Homo sapiens: one gene and its partners. The protein of the gene in region 3 purifies or fractionates together with the protein of the main gene of each other region. This does not show direct contact. Each region holds a gene or a part of one and is shown on either strand. Other genes may lie near its edges.

What was found. Proteins that work in one complex are often made in the same cells at the same time.
Region 1: the proteins of ODAD1 (region 3) and PDCD7 purify together in Homo sapiens (affinity purification with mass spectrometry; one large-scale study listed by BioGRID and IntAct). This does not show direct contact.
Region 2: the proteins of ODAD1 (region 3) and PCNT purify together in Homo sapiens (affinity purification with mass spectrometry; one large-scale study listed by BioGRID and IntAct). This does not show direct contact.
Region 4: the proteins of ODAD1 (region 3) and EXOC7 purify together in Homo sapiens (affinity purification with mass spectrometry; one large-scale study listed by BioGRID and IntAct). This does not show direct contact.

The regions. Positions count from the first base shown.
Region 1 is NC_000015.10:65,123,809-65,127,308, reverse strand, and holds part of PDCD7 (programmed cell death protein 7), read left to right. Parts: intron 1-3,500. UniProt on the Homo sapiens protein: Promotes apoptosis when overexpressed.
Region 2 is NC_000021.9:46,414,656-46,418,155, forward strand, and holds part of PCNT (pericentrin), read left to right. Parts: intron 1-1,413; coding exon 1,414-2,184; intron 2,185-3,500. UniProt on the Homo sapiens protein: Integral component of the filamentous matrix of the centrosome involved in the initial establishment of organized microtubule arrays in both mitosis and meiosis. Plays a role, together with DISC1, in the microtubule network formation.
Region 3 is NC_000019.10:48,311,972-48,315,471, reverse strand, and holds part of ODAD1 (outer dynein arm-docking complex subunit 1), read left to right. Parts: intron 1-3,355; coding exon 3,356-3,478; intron 3,479-3,500. UniProt on the Homo sapiens protein: Component of the outer dynein arm-docking complex (ODA-DC) that mediates outer dynein arms (ODA) binding onto the doublet microtubule. Involved in mediating assembly of both ODAs and their axonemal docking complex onto ciliary microtubules.
Region 4 is NC_000017.11:76,090,288-76,093,787, reverse strand, and holds part of EXOC7 (exocyst complex component 7), read left to right. Parts: intron 1-2,552; coding exon 2,553-2,645; intron 2,646-3,306; coding exon of another isoform or gene 3,307-3,459; intron 3,460-3,500. UniProt on the Homo sapiens protein: Component of the exocyst complex involved in the docking of exocytic vesicles with fusion sites on the plasma membrane.

The DNA.
Region 1 (3,500 bases), on a different chromosome or scaffold from region 3:
ATTTTTTGTATTTTTAGTAGAGACGGGGTTTCACCTTGTTAGCCAGGATGGTCTCGATCTCCTGACCTCATGATCCACCTGCCTCGGCCTCCCAAAGTGCTGGGATTACAGGCGTGAGCCACCACGCCTGGCCCCGCTGAAAGTTTTTAAGTGAAATGATGGCAAAGATCAGTGCCAGTAGAGCAGAGAAAGTTTTGGAGCATCCAGGAGAGAGAGAGAAGGGCAGAGAGATGGGTAAGGCTATTGGGCACGGGTAGTATGGAAGCATAAGCTGAGTGACGTCAGTGTGTAGGAGAATTGAGAGGTAATGAGTAATTCAAGTGATAGTGAATAATTGAGTAATTCAGAATTATTAGTGAATAATTCTCAAGTCAAAGAATTGAGAGATAATGAATAAAGGTATATGTGTATATACCCATGTACATATAAATAAATAATTTAAGGAACTCAGAGTACAGGAACTAAAGGGAAAAACAATGAAATGTCTTCCAGATTCTAGCCTCATCTACTGAATAAGTGAAGATAGCTTTTTTTTTTTGCTTTTTTTTTTTTTAAAAGACAGGGTCTTGCACTGTCGCCCAAGCCGAAGTGCAGTGGTGCAATCATAATTCACTGCAGCCTTATACTCCCAGGCAGGAGCGATCCTCCCACCTCAGCCTCCTGAGTAGTAGAGACTACAGGTGCACACCACCACACCTGGCTAATTTTTAAATTTTTTGTAGAGATAGAGTTTCGCCATGTTGCCCAAGCTGGTCTCGAACTCCTGGGCTCAAGCGATTCTCCCATCTTGGCCTCCCAAAGTTCTAGGATTAAGGGTGTGAGCCACTGTGCCTGGCCGATACCATTCTAATTAAGAAGGAAAACAAGGGAGGAGGAACAGGTTTAGGGTTGACAAGTTCAGTTGGGGACCTGTCGAGTTTGAGGTGTGTGTGGTACATCCTGGATAAGAGTTCATTAGCATGTAGCCATGAGTCAGAATGACCTTAAGGAGATTGTACAGCATGAGATGAGGGCCAAAAAGACAAAATCATAGGGAATGTCAAAATCAAGGTAGAAGATGAAGAGAGCAAAAAAGAGACCAAGAGAGGTCAGAGAGATGGGAGGAAAAGATAGACTCCCTGCTTCCTTCTGGAAAGTGGCAAGTGCTTAGAGAGAGATTGTGTAGTCTTGGTGATATGGTTTGGCTGTGTCCCCACCCAAATCTCATCTTGAATTGTAGCTCCCATAATTCCCACATGTCGTCGGAGGGACTTGGTGGGAGGTAATTGAATCATGGGGACAGGTCTTTCACATGCTGTTCTTGTGATCATAAGTCTCATGAGATCTGATGGATTTATAAAGGAGAGTTTCCTTGCACACGCCCTCTTTACCTGTCACCATGTAAGATATAACTTTGCTCCTCCTTCACCTTCCGCCATGATTGTGAAGCCTCCCCAGCCATGTAGAACTGTGAGTCAATTAAACCTCTTTTATAAATTACCCAATTTCAGGTATATCTTTATTGGCAGCGTGAGAATAGATTAATACACTTGGACAGGTTACTTGAGCTTCTCTGAACCTTTGTTTCCTCATCTGCAAAAAGGGAGTAATGATAGTACCTACCCATGGGGTGTCGTGAGGATTAAATTAATAAATATGTGTAAAGTACTTAAAACAGTCCTGGCACATAGTAAATGCTATATACATGTTTCATATTATTATTCTTTTTATTATCAAGAAATAAGGAACATCCATGGGAATTAGTATCCAACCGGTCATTAGTGACCTATGCTAGGGGCATTTCAGTGGAGTGGTGGGGGTAGAAGCCAGACTACAGTTGGTTAGAGAATGAATATGATACAAGAAAAGCAAACAGATAATTCAACTTATTAAAAGATTGCCTGTGAAGAAAAGGAAAGAGCAACATCAGTATCTGGCAAGGTGTGTGGTAGTGGTGATGGTGAGGGGTGTTGTGTGTCTTTGGGTCATGGGGAAAACTTAAGCATGGTTAAAATTGCTGAGAGGAGTGAGTAGAAGGGGAAGGGTCAAAGAGAAGCAGGAAGAATAGTTGATGGCTCAAGGTCCCATGGAAGGTAGGATGATTCAGATCCCAGGTGGAGGGATTAACTTAAGTGAAGAAGGACCCATCTTACACAAGCATGAAAATGAAGGAGATGAAGATAGGTAGTGATGCACATGAGTGTGTAAATGGGGACAGATATTTGAGGGATTTCCTGTCTGCTGGCCTGTTTTCTCTGGGAAACAGGGTAAATGGTTTGCTGAGCGCCAGTAGACAAGTGGGGCTTTAGGAGAGCAGTGAAGGTTTGATTTAATTGCTGTGAAGAATGGGTGAGAGCCAACAGAGACTTGTGGAAGATGGTTGCAGGGGGTGCTATGGGTCCAGCTGACATATATTGGCAATGGATGACACAATCAAATGACCTCTTCCAGTAGTACTGTAGCTGACAGGTGAGCACAGAGCACGGGGCTGTTGGGGTTTTGCTTTGTGGGGTGACCATTAGTTTTGTGGCGAAGGAGTAGCAGAAGGATAGAATCTGATACATCAGGTCCGGAGGTTTTGATGAAGCTGCCAAATGGGTCTCTGGGGAGAAGGAAGTAAAAGTACTATAAGGGAGAAAGTTGTAGTTGGATAAGAGAATAATCAAGTTTAAGATTTAAGAGGCAGAAAGTTTTTTCTGATAATGCCAAGGTCCACAGACTGAACAGGACTGCAGGCATGTGGCTAAAGGGGAATAGAGGCAAAGGCATTGGTGTCTAGGAGCTGCAGGACTAGGTGGACAGTGAGTGGTAGAAGTGGAGGGAACCTAGATGGTGCCAGGAGGAAGACTGTGTGAGAAGTGCTGTTTCTTTTTCTTTTTCTTTCTTTCTTTCTTTTTTTTTTTTGAGACGGAGTTTCACTCTTGTTGCCCCTGTTGGAGTGCAGTGGTGCAATCTCGGCTCACTGCAACCTCCACCTCCCAGGTTCAAGCGATTCTCCTGCCTCAGCCTCCAGAGTAGCTGAGATTACAGGCATGCACCACCACACCCAGCTAATTTTTGTATTTTTTTTAGTAGAGATGGGGTTTCACCACGTTGGTCAGGCTGGTCTCAAACTCCTGACCTCAGGTAATCTACCCGCCTCAGCCTCCCAAAGTGTTGGGATTACAGGTGTGAGCCACCACTCCCGCCCCAGGAGTGCCATTTCTGAGGGAATATGTTACATTGACCAGGGAGTGATCAGTGAGGGGCCGAGAGAGATGTGGGTTGGTGGCCCAGGCTCAGCAGCCTACATCTCTTCATGGGGTCTTTAGGCTAACATAGGATGATGGAGTATCTGTGTATTTCGCCATAGACAGATTTTAGTAGTTGCAACAGAGACTGTATGGCTTACAAAATCTAAAATATTTACCTGTAAAGGTAAAGAAATGAAACAAAACCGTTAGATTATTATAAAACAGAGTGACAGCTTAAATTTGTCAGTGTATAAGAATTTTGTGTATACTTGAAAAACACTGGCCTGG
Region 2 (3,500 bases), on a different chromosome or scaffold from region 3:
AGCCACCCACCCTGCTCCTCCTCCTCCTCCTGGACACACAGCTGCCCACACTCCTCCTCCTGGACACACAGCTGCCCACCCTCCTCCTCCTGGACACGCAGCCGCCCACCCTCCTCCTGGACACACAGCCGCCCACTCTCCTCCTCCTGGACATGCAGCCGCCCACCCTGCTCCTCCTCCTCCTGGACACACAGACACCTACCCTCCTCCTGCTGGACACACAGCCACCCACCCTGCTCTTCCTCCTCCCCCTCCTCCCTGCTGTTTGCTAAATGTGCCCCAACTACTCCTCCAGGCTCTGAAACCCAGAGGCTCTAACACCAGAAGTGCTGGGCAGGTGTTTTATGGTCTCTAGGGTGGCACGGAAGCATGCTTGGTGCTGAAGCCTGCTGAGACCTGGGCTCACCCGAGCCCCTCGCAGCCCTCGTGAGTGTCCCGCACGTCGCTGGGACGTTTCTTGCATGAGTGCAGGTGCCGCCTGTTCCTGGGTCCACACTGCGTGCACCTCATTGGCGTTTAGAGCCTGAAAGATTCTTAATTCCACAGAAATCAGGGAAGGATGGGCCTAGGCCCGCAGTTCTGAGGAGACCCATGAACCTGGTTCGTGTGCTTGTCATGTGCTCTCGGGAAATACATCCTGTGTGGAGAGCCCTTCGCATCTCCTGCGGCAAACAGTCTTGGGGCCCTCATGACAGGAACGTTTCTTTGAATTTTTTTTTTTTTTTTTTTTTTTTTTTTTTGAGACAGAGTCTCGCTCTGTCGCCCAGGCTGGAGTGCAGTGGCGAGATCTTGAGATCTTGGCTCACTGCAACCTCCACCTCCTGGGTTCAAGCAATTCACTGCCTCAGCCTCCCGAGTAGCTAGGATTACAGGCACCCGCCACCATGCCTGGCTAATTTTTGTATTTTTAGTAGAGACAGGGTTTCACCATTTTGGCCAGGGTGGTCTCGAACTCCTGACCTCGTGATCCACCTGTCTCAGCCTCCCAAAATGCTAGGATTACAGGCGTGAGCCACTGCACCCGGCCCAATTTTTTGAATTCTTAAGAGAAAGCTCAGCCCTGCCTGCCAAATTCTTAGAAGTTACACACACAGAAACTCCAAATTCATCACATAAACCACAATTTTGTGTTTTCGGTGCTCAGATATAGAACCTTCCCATCCTTTTTCCCTTGTATGAAGCTTGTGTCCTCAATCACCGCAGAAATAGGTTATGACAGTTGCCTTTTAAGCAAGGAGATGTAAGCCTTGGTTCTGTTTCTCATAGAATTAAATAAACTTGAAATGTGCAGGGCTCATTGTGGAATCACCCGAGTGCTCCGAAACTCCCTGAAATCCACTCATTAACACCAGACAGGTGCGACTCCTGGTGAGCCAGGTATTCCACCGTGCACCTGTTCTGTTTCACCTGCAGGGTAAAGAAAAAGTACTGGAAGATTGTCAGCTGCCGAAGGTCGATCTCGTAGCTCAGGTGAAACAGCTTCAGGAAAAACTGAACCGTTTGCTGTATTCCATGACCTTCCAGAATGTGGATGCTGCCGACACCAAATCTCTGTGGCCCATGGCCTCAGCACACCTGTTGGAGAGCAGCTGGAGTGATGATTCCTGTGACGGAGAAGAGCCTGACATATCACCCCACATAGACACATGTGATGCCAATACAGCCACGGGGGGTGTAACTGATGTTATCAAAAATCAGGCCATAGACGCGTGTGATGCCAATACAACCCCAGGGGGTGTAACTGATGTTATCAAAAATTGGGATTCCTTGATACCAGATGAAATGCCAGATTCTCCCATTCAAGAAAAATCAGAATGTCAGGACATGTCTCTTTCTTCACCGACCAGCGTACTTGGTGGCTCCCGCCACCAGAGCCACACTGCAGAGGCTGGGCCCCGGAAGAGCCCGGTCGGGATGCTGGACCTGTCTTCCTGGAGCTCCCCTGAGGTCCTCAGGAAGGACTGGACCCTGGAGCCCTGGCCCAGCCTCCCCGTGACACCCCACTCAGGAGCCCTGAGCCTGTGCAGTGCCGACACATCCCTGGGGGACAGGGCGGACACCTCGCTGCCACAGACCCAGGGGCCGGGGCTGCTTTGTTCCCCAGGCGTGTCTGCAGCAGCGCTGGCACTGCAGTGGGCCGAGTCTCCGCCGGCTGACGACCACCATGTGCAGAGGACGGCTGTGGTAGGTGCCTGCTCTGCTCCCAGGCCTGCTGTTCCCGTGGGAATGTGGTCTGCCCGGCGCCACGGCAGCTGCCATTGTTTGTTCACCTCCTGACAGCACACACCTCGCAGTGCTGTGTGGGGCCAGCTCTGCAGGACTGGCATCATGGGCGCATTTAGATTATTTCAGTTGTTCAGGTATTTTTAAAATGCCTGAGATGCATTTGCCTGCCTCAGACATACCCTGGGCATGCTTCTCCACTGACGCTGACTCCAACGGGCATAGCCCAGACACGTCTTCGTGTGTGATGGGCATAGGGTTCTTTGTCCAGAATGGTTTTTTAGATTTATTTTTAGGAATGCTTCCTTTTTTTTTTTTTTTTTTTTTTTTTGTGAGATGGAGTCTCGCTCTGTCACCCAGGCTAGAGTGCAGTGACGCAATCTCGGCTCACTGCAGCCTCCGCCTCCCCAGGTTCAAGCAAATCTCCTGCCTCAGCCTCCCTAGTAGCTGGGACTACAGGCACACGCCACCACACCCGGCTAATTTTTGTAGTTTAGTAGAGACGGGGTTTTACCTTATTGGTCAGGCTGGTCTCGAACTCCTGACCTCATGATCCACCCACCTCAGCCTCCCAAAGTGCTGGGCTTACAGGCGTGAGCCACCATGCTCAGCCAGAAATGCTTCATATTTTTAACAGGTTTCACATATGCTAATTAATTTTAATTTATGAGTTAGATCGTATTATTTCTAACATAATCATTTTGGGATTTTGTGTATCTTGAGTAAGATAAAATTAAAAATCAGGTATGGTTGGGCTCATGCTTGTAGTCTCAGCACTTTGGGAGGCTGAGGCGGGAGGATTGCTTGAGCCCAGGAATTTGAGACCAGGCTGGGTAACACGGTGAGACCCTGTCTCTACAAAAAAAACACAAAAAATTAGCTGGGCGTGCTGGTGCCGCCCATGGTCCCTGCTCTTCAGGAGGCTGAGGCAGGAGGATCACTTGACCTTGGGAGGTTGAGGATGCAGTGAGCCAAGATTGAACCACTGCACTCCAGCCTGGGTGACAGAGTGAGACCCTCCCTCAAAAAATAATAATTTAGCAGATACATATTATCTGAAACATCCATATACTATCATTTCATGCAAAACAATTTAAATCTGAAATATTTACTATTGGCTACATTAAAATATTCCTAAAGAGCTGTGGGTGAATCTGATTAAATTGTTGGAAGCATTCGACCTGTGTGTTCACCAGTTTTGAGTTGTTTCATCTGGGGTCTATGTGGGAAGATAAATTCAGGCCTTTGAAAGTTTTCACCTGGCAAAGTCAGCGCTA
Region 3 (3,500 bases):
CCTGGGTTCAAGCAACTCTTCTGCCTCAGCCTCCTGGGTAGTTGGGACTACGGGTGCCTGCCACGATGCCTGGCTAATTTTGTATTTTTAGTAGAGACGGGGTTTCGCCATGTTGGCCAGGCTGGTCTCGAACTCCTGACCTCAGGGGATCTGCCCACCTCAGCCTCCCAAAGTGCTGGGATTACAGGCGTGAGCCACCGTGCCCATCCCACATTGAACACTAAATATGTGCAGTTTTACCGTATGTCATCTCTTCTTTCATAAAGCAATTACTGAGGCAGGAGGATTGCTTGAGCCTGGCCTGGGAGGTGGAGGCTGCAGTGAGCTATGATGGTGCCACTGCACTCGGCCTGGGTGACAGAGTGAGACCCTGTCTCTAAAAAAAAGAAAAAATAAAAGAAAGAAAGAAAATTTTGTTGGGATTCATGTGCAGTTGAAAGAAATAATGCAGAGACATCCCTTGTACACTTTGCTGCATTTTCCCCCAGTGTCAACATTTTGGACATTTCTTTTTCTTTTCTTTTTTGAGGTGGAGTCTCGCTCAGTCACCCAGGCTGGAGTGCAGTGGTGCAATCTCGGCTCATTGCAGCCTCCACCTCCCAGGCCAGGCTCAAGTGATTCTCGTGCTTCAGCCACCCGAGTAGCTGGGATTACAGTCACGTGCCATTACGCCCAGCTAATTTTTGTATTTTTAGTAGAGATGGGGTTTCACCATTTTGGCCAGGCTGGTCTCAAACTCCTGACCTCAGGTGATCCACTCGCCTCGGCCTCTCAAAGTGCTGGGATTACAGGCGTGAGACACTGCGCCCACCAACAATTGGGTATTTGGCTTTTATTGCAGCAACTGCTGAAAATCCAGTCTCACAAAGATGTGACATCTTCAAAAGGATGATAGCGCCCTCTCATGTTGAACTTGTGAACTGCCTTAAGCTAGCAGTTCATGTGGTATCTGACCAATATCAAGGTCTTCCTCAAAAATTTAAAACATCCTCATGCTGAGTCTTAAGTTTGCTGCAGCCTTCTGGGGTATCTTTGGTACGTGGATTAGTTTGTTAGGGCTGCTATGACAAAGTTCCACAAATTGGGTGGCTCGTATAACAAAAATATGTTTTCTCATAGTTCCAAAGGCCAGAAGTCCAAGATCAAGATGTAGGCAGGTTTGGTTCCTTCTGAGCAGTGTGGGGGAGAATCTGTCTGTTCCATGCCTCTCTCTCTCTGCTTCTGCCGGTTTGCTGGCAGTCTTGGGTACTTTGGCTTGTAGACATGTCACCCAATCTCTCAGCTCACTGCAGCCTCCACCCCCTGGGTTCAAGCGATTCTCCTGCCTCAGCCTCCCAAGTAGCTGGGATTACAGGCATGTGCCACCACACCTGGCTAATTTTTGTATGTTTAGTAGAGATGGGGTTTCGCCATGTTGGCCAGGCTGGTCTCGAACTCCTGACCTCAAGTTATCCACCCATCTCAGCCTCCGAAAGTGTTGGGATTACAGGCGTGAGCCACCACACCTGACCTCTGTCTTTATCCTTACGTGGCATTCTCCCTGTGTGCGTATCTATGTCCAAATTTCCTTTTTTGTTTTGTTTTGTTTTGAGACAGGATCTCCCTCTGTCACCCAGGCTGGAGTACAGTGGCTCAATCACAGCTCACTGCAGCTTCGAGCTCCTTGTCTCAAGGGATCTGCCACCTCAGCTTCCCAAGTAGCTAGGACTACAGGTGTGCACCACCATGCCCAGCTAATTTATTTTGTATCTTGTAGAGATGGGGTCTTGCTTTGTGGCCCAGGCTGGTCTTGAACTCCTGGCTTCGAGAGATCATCCTGCCTCAGCCTTCCAAAGTATTGGGATTACAGGCATGAGCCACCACACCCAGCAATTTCCCATTTTTCTAAGAACACCTCGTCGTAGTGGATTAGGGCCCACCTTAATTACCTCATTTTAATTACTTCTATGAAGACTCTGTCTCCAAATAAGGTCACATTCTAAAGTACTGGGGGTTAAGACTTCAACATGTGAGGTTTTTTTTTGGTTTTTTTTTTTTTTTTTTTTGAGATGGAGTCTTGTTCTGTTCCCCAGGCTGGAGTGCAGTGGCACAATCTCAGCTCACTGCAACCTCTCCTCCTGGGTTCAAGCAATTCTCCTGCCTCAGCCTCCCGAGTAGCTGGGATTACAGGTGCCTGCCACCACGCCTTGCTAATTTTTGTATTTTAGTAGAGGTGGGGTTTCGCCATGTTGGCCAGGGTGGTCTTGAACTCCTGACCTCAGCTGATTCACCCACCTCTGCCTCCCAGAGTGCTGGGATTACAGGTGTGAGCCACCGTGCCCGGCCAACATATGAGTTTTTATGGGACATGATTCAACCCATAACAGAGCACAAATTGAAGTGTTGAGCAATTCATTTATCTATTTAGTCTGCATGTTATGTTGAATACCTTCTTTGTCTCGGACAGGGAGAAAACACAAGACTCTGTGTCCTCATGGAACCCCCAGTTTGCTGGGAGAGACAGAGCACACCCCAATAAGTACAGATGAATACAGAAATGAGGACAGATTGGAAGCTGGTCTTAGGCATAAGCAGACCCAGGGCTACTAATGTCATCAAGTTCATTCTCACCGTCTCTCCGACTCTCATCTCCACTTCTGTCCACTGGCCTCATTCTCCCAGGACCCTCCCTGTGGTGGGGCCATGACAGGAGAAGTCCTGGAATCCCATCCTTCCATCTCATGTGCTTCCCCCAGACTATCAGGAAAGGAGTCAGGGCCGGGTGCAGTGGCTCTTGCCTGTAATCCCAGCACTTTGGGAGGCCAAGGCGGGTGGATCACTTGAGGTCAGGAGTTCAAGATCAGCCTGGCCAACATGGTGAAACCCCATCTCTACTAAAAATACAAAAATTAGCTGGGTGTGGTGGTACGTGCCTGTAATCCCAGCTACTCGGGAGGTTGAGGCACTAGAATTGCTCGAGCCTGGGAGGTGGAGGTTGCAGTGAGCCAAGATCGCGCCACTGCACACTCCAGCCTGGGAGACAGAGCAAGACTCTGTCTCAAAAAAAAAAAAAAAAAAAACAAAAAAAAAAACGGAAAGGAGTCAGGCTAGCTCCATGGGGTCACATTCCCATCTCTAGGCCAATCCCTGTGAGTGTCCAGACCTGGGTCATGTGGCTGATAGGGTGATACACTGTGGTTGGAAGGCCCACCAGAACCACATGGAGGGCTGGATAGTGTCAGCAGAAGGGTAGATGTTATTCTGGGGTGACAGGGACAGCAGATGTTTGCCATGCTTAGTGACTCATTTTCCCTGGGCCATTCAATCTCTCCCACATTCAGGCAACCAAAAACAGGTACCATCCTCTTTCTTGTAGATCCAGGAGTGGGAGACGCGGATCTTTACCCACAGTAAGAATGTCAGGTCCCCGGGATTCATCCTGGATCAGAAGGTCAAGATCAGGCGAAGGATCAGGATCCTAGAAAACCAGTTGGACAGGGTGAGGGTCAAACTCCTGGTCC
Region 4 (3,500 bases), on a different chromosome or scaffold from region 3:
TTCTCCCCGGCATCATATCCCTTATAGTCTGTGCTCCAGGTAAACAGTGTCTCTGCCAGCCACAGCTTGGCAAGCCCGGCTATGTCTGGCCACTGAGAGATGCTGCCCGCAGCTCGATGATGTGCTGGGATGTTCTGGGGTGGGGCTGCTGAGATTGCACTGAAAAAGAAAGCTGGAGAAGCCGGGGCTGCTCCCACCCAGGCTGGCCCCCTGTCCAGCTGCTGCTGTGGGCACATGCCCTAGTTGTGGCCTGTGGCACCTGCTTATGACAACAAGCTTTGGGTAGAGCTTACTTACACCCTTGGTTTCTCCAGTCCCTGCCTGCTCATGCCCCTCAGAGAGTGAGGTGTCTGTTCCACAAGAGCACCCGCTCCCCTGCAGGCCTTTGTTTAGGGTTTGGAGAAACAGGCAGAGCAGGGGCTGCCCTCAGGGAGTAGAGCATTAGGGAGCTGGTGCCTGGGGCCTTCTCCCTCCAGTGTGGAAATCCTGCCCACCAGCCAAAACCTGCTGCAAATGGGGACTGCCAGCCCAGCCTGTGGGCGCAGCTGCCTGCACAGTGGATGGAGCAGCTCTGTGCCTTCTGTGTGGTGGGGAGTGGCTGTCTCTATGAGGCTGCTAGGATGCTTGGGCCCCAGCCAGTCTGTGCTTGCTTCCTCTTCTGCCTGGCTCCCTGACAGGTCCCCCAGAAGCCCCAGAGCCCTATTTGCACTGCCTTAAGAGTGCCCGCTGGCCATGCAGCTACCTGGCCTTTCAGGCAGGAGGGATCTGATCTCAGGTGGCTCACAGTGGACCACATCCATCCTTGGGCCAGAGACACTAGAGGAAAACTCCAGCTGTGGGGTTTCAGAGTTGTCAGGAACTGGTGGGCTCAGGACCGATGTCAGGCTCTAGGGAGTCAGGCTCTGGGGATGTCGGTTCCCACTTCTGAGGAGAGGGACAGGGAGGCCTCCCAGGTGGTGAAGCACCGACCTCAGCATCCCTGGAGGCAATTGGGAGCCTGACGGGTTTGGCGGCTGCTAGATCCACATCGGCGACCCACATCCTGCCGGCGTGCACCTGCGTCTGTGTCTGCTCCTGGTGGGTTGTGGGGCAGGAATCAGATTCACTCATTAGTAAGCCGCACTCGCTGAAGGGGAGAGCATGAGCAAGGGAGACGTGAGCCAGGCCTTGGTTATTAGGAGCTAATTATGGGCCAAGTATGGTGGCTCACGCCTGTAATCCTAGCACTTCGGGAGGCCGAGGCGGGCGGATCACCTGAGGTCAGGAGTTCGAGACCAGCCTGGCCAACATGGTGAAACCCTGTCTCTACTAAAAATAGAAAAAAAATTAGTTGGGTGTGGTGACGCACGCCTATAATCCCAGCTACCTGGGAGGCTGAGGCAGGAGAATCACTTGAACCCAGGAGGCAGAGGTTGCAGTGAGCCGAGGTCGTGCCACCGTACTCCAGCCTGGGCGACAGAGTGAGACTGTCTCAAAAAAAAAAAAAAAAAAAAAAACAAGCTAATTGTGGTGTTGTGCGGTGCGGTGCGGTGCAGGTGTAAGCAGTGAGCCTCCAGACACTGCCCCTTTCTCCCTCAGCTTTCTGGGGAGCTGCCAGGACACAGCAGCCTCACTGTGCTCAGATAGACTGTGGGGGTGGGAGGCATCCCGGGTGCCTTTCTGCCCCTATACATTTTGTTAACAAGGCAGCTGCACTTGTCTGCTTGAGATGCGAGTTGATTTCCCGACGTCTTCTGGCCCGAGATGTCTCATTCCCACAAAGGAGGCTGACCCAGGCGGCTGTGGGTGCTGCCATTTTGTTCTCATTGTTTTCACTTGTGATACTAACTATTGTTTTTCTCCCCCATGCCAAGAGCATGTGCCCTCTCCTTCCGTGCACACCCTCCAGGCGCTCTGTGTGGTGGCTTCTGTTAACCCCTTCTTGACTTTTGGATTTTTTCTTGTCGCTTTGGTGGTTTGGGGAACTCTGGTGTGGGGCTAGGCTGCCTCTGGGTCTCTGAGCCGTCCGCCTTGGGCACAGCGCTCCCCCGGAAGTTCAGTCAGGGTGGCTTCCTGCTGGCTGCTGTTTGGCGTACGTCCCAACACTGAGCATGCTCGGAGAACTCTGCCTGGAGTTTGGGGCTGGGCTGGGGGCCTGCTGGCTTCAGGGTGCCCCCCAGGCTCTCCCACCCTGGTTGTGCCCTCTGGGTATGCGAGCTTTGTCACGGGCTCCTCCGACCTGAGCCCTCGCCTGTTCTGATTATGATGCCACTCCATATTTTTGACTTCTCCTGGTGGATCTTGGTCCATCTTCATTACCCTCTGTCCTTTCAGAAATGAGCTGAAATCCAGAACAAGGAGGGTCGGTAGTAGAATCAAGGCTCCATTTGGAGAAGGAAATGACTCCTTTCCTTCATCCTTGTCCCCAGCGTCTCTGGTGGTCTCAGGGAAAGGCCTGCTCACTGTTGGGGAGCTGGGTGCGGGGCCTGGGGGGCAGGTGGAGGGCCGCTGCTGTTTTCTCTCACTCATTTCCTAGGTCTTCTTATCTCCTCTCTGTGTGGCTCTGGTGACAGGGACGATCCGTAAGGCTCAGAACCTTCTGAAACAGTATTCCCAGCATGGTCTAGATGGGAAAAAGGGGGGCTCTAACCTCATTCCTCTGGAAGGTAATCACCCTGTGTTCCCCTCCTGTCCCTTCCTCCTCCACTGTGTGTCCACGCACTTGGCAGGGCAGAGCCTCCCCCAGGAGGGCCTCGGGAGAAACCCTGAGGGGAGCAGGGTGGGAACGGCAGGTCCCCGATGCCACTCGGGCTTCAGCGGGCACAGGGACAGTTTCGCAGCCCTCGGCCTGGTCCTCTCTGGCTGATGGCAGCTCTGCCCTCCCTGAGGCTTCCCTCCTCCCTTCCCTGTCTCTGTCCTTGTCTCCTGTGTGAACTCAGAAAAAGTTATTTGTCTTGGGGCAGCCCTTTCACGCTCAGACCAGCAGTGGCAGGCCCCAGCTGGCCGAGGCCTCCCGGCCTTCCCATCTTTAGAAAGGGGAGTGTGTGCAGCAGAGGACAGGCAAACTGGGGCTTTCCCCAAATACAGCGAGGTGGGGAACCCCCCTGGGGCCAAGCATCAGCTCTTCAGCCCCTCCTTGGTCCTTCTCCGCTTTCCCTGGGCCTCCAGGCTCGGGGAAATGAGCAGCTAAGGACGGTCCTGGGTGCTCACTGAAGTCAGGCTTGAAACGGCTGTTCCCAAGGTGGCTTGAGGTAGAGGAGGGGCTCAGGGCCCTCTCCGATGCCCCCTTCCCCATCCCCATCTGACGTCCCCCTCCTGGAGATGAAGGGCTTCTTCCCTGTACCCCAAGGGGCGGCCTGCCTGGCCCCTGGATAAACGCTGCTTGTGTTTGTGCGGCCGACATCTCGCCAGGTCACGAGCATGATTTCCGAGTTAAGCACCTGTCCGAGGCCTTGAACGACAAGCACGGGCCGCTGGCCGGTGAGTACCGCAGCCCAGCCCGAGGGCAGCCGCTGACACTG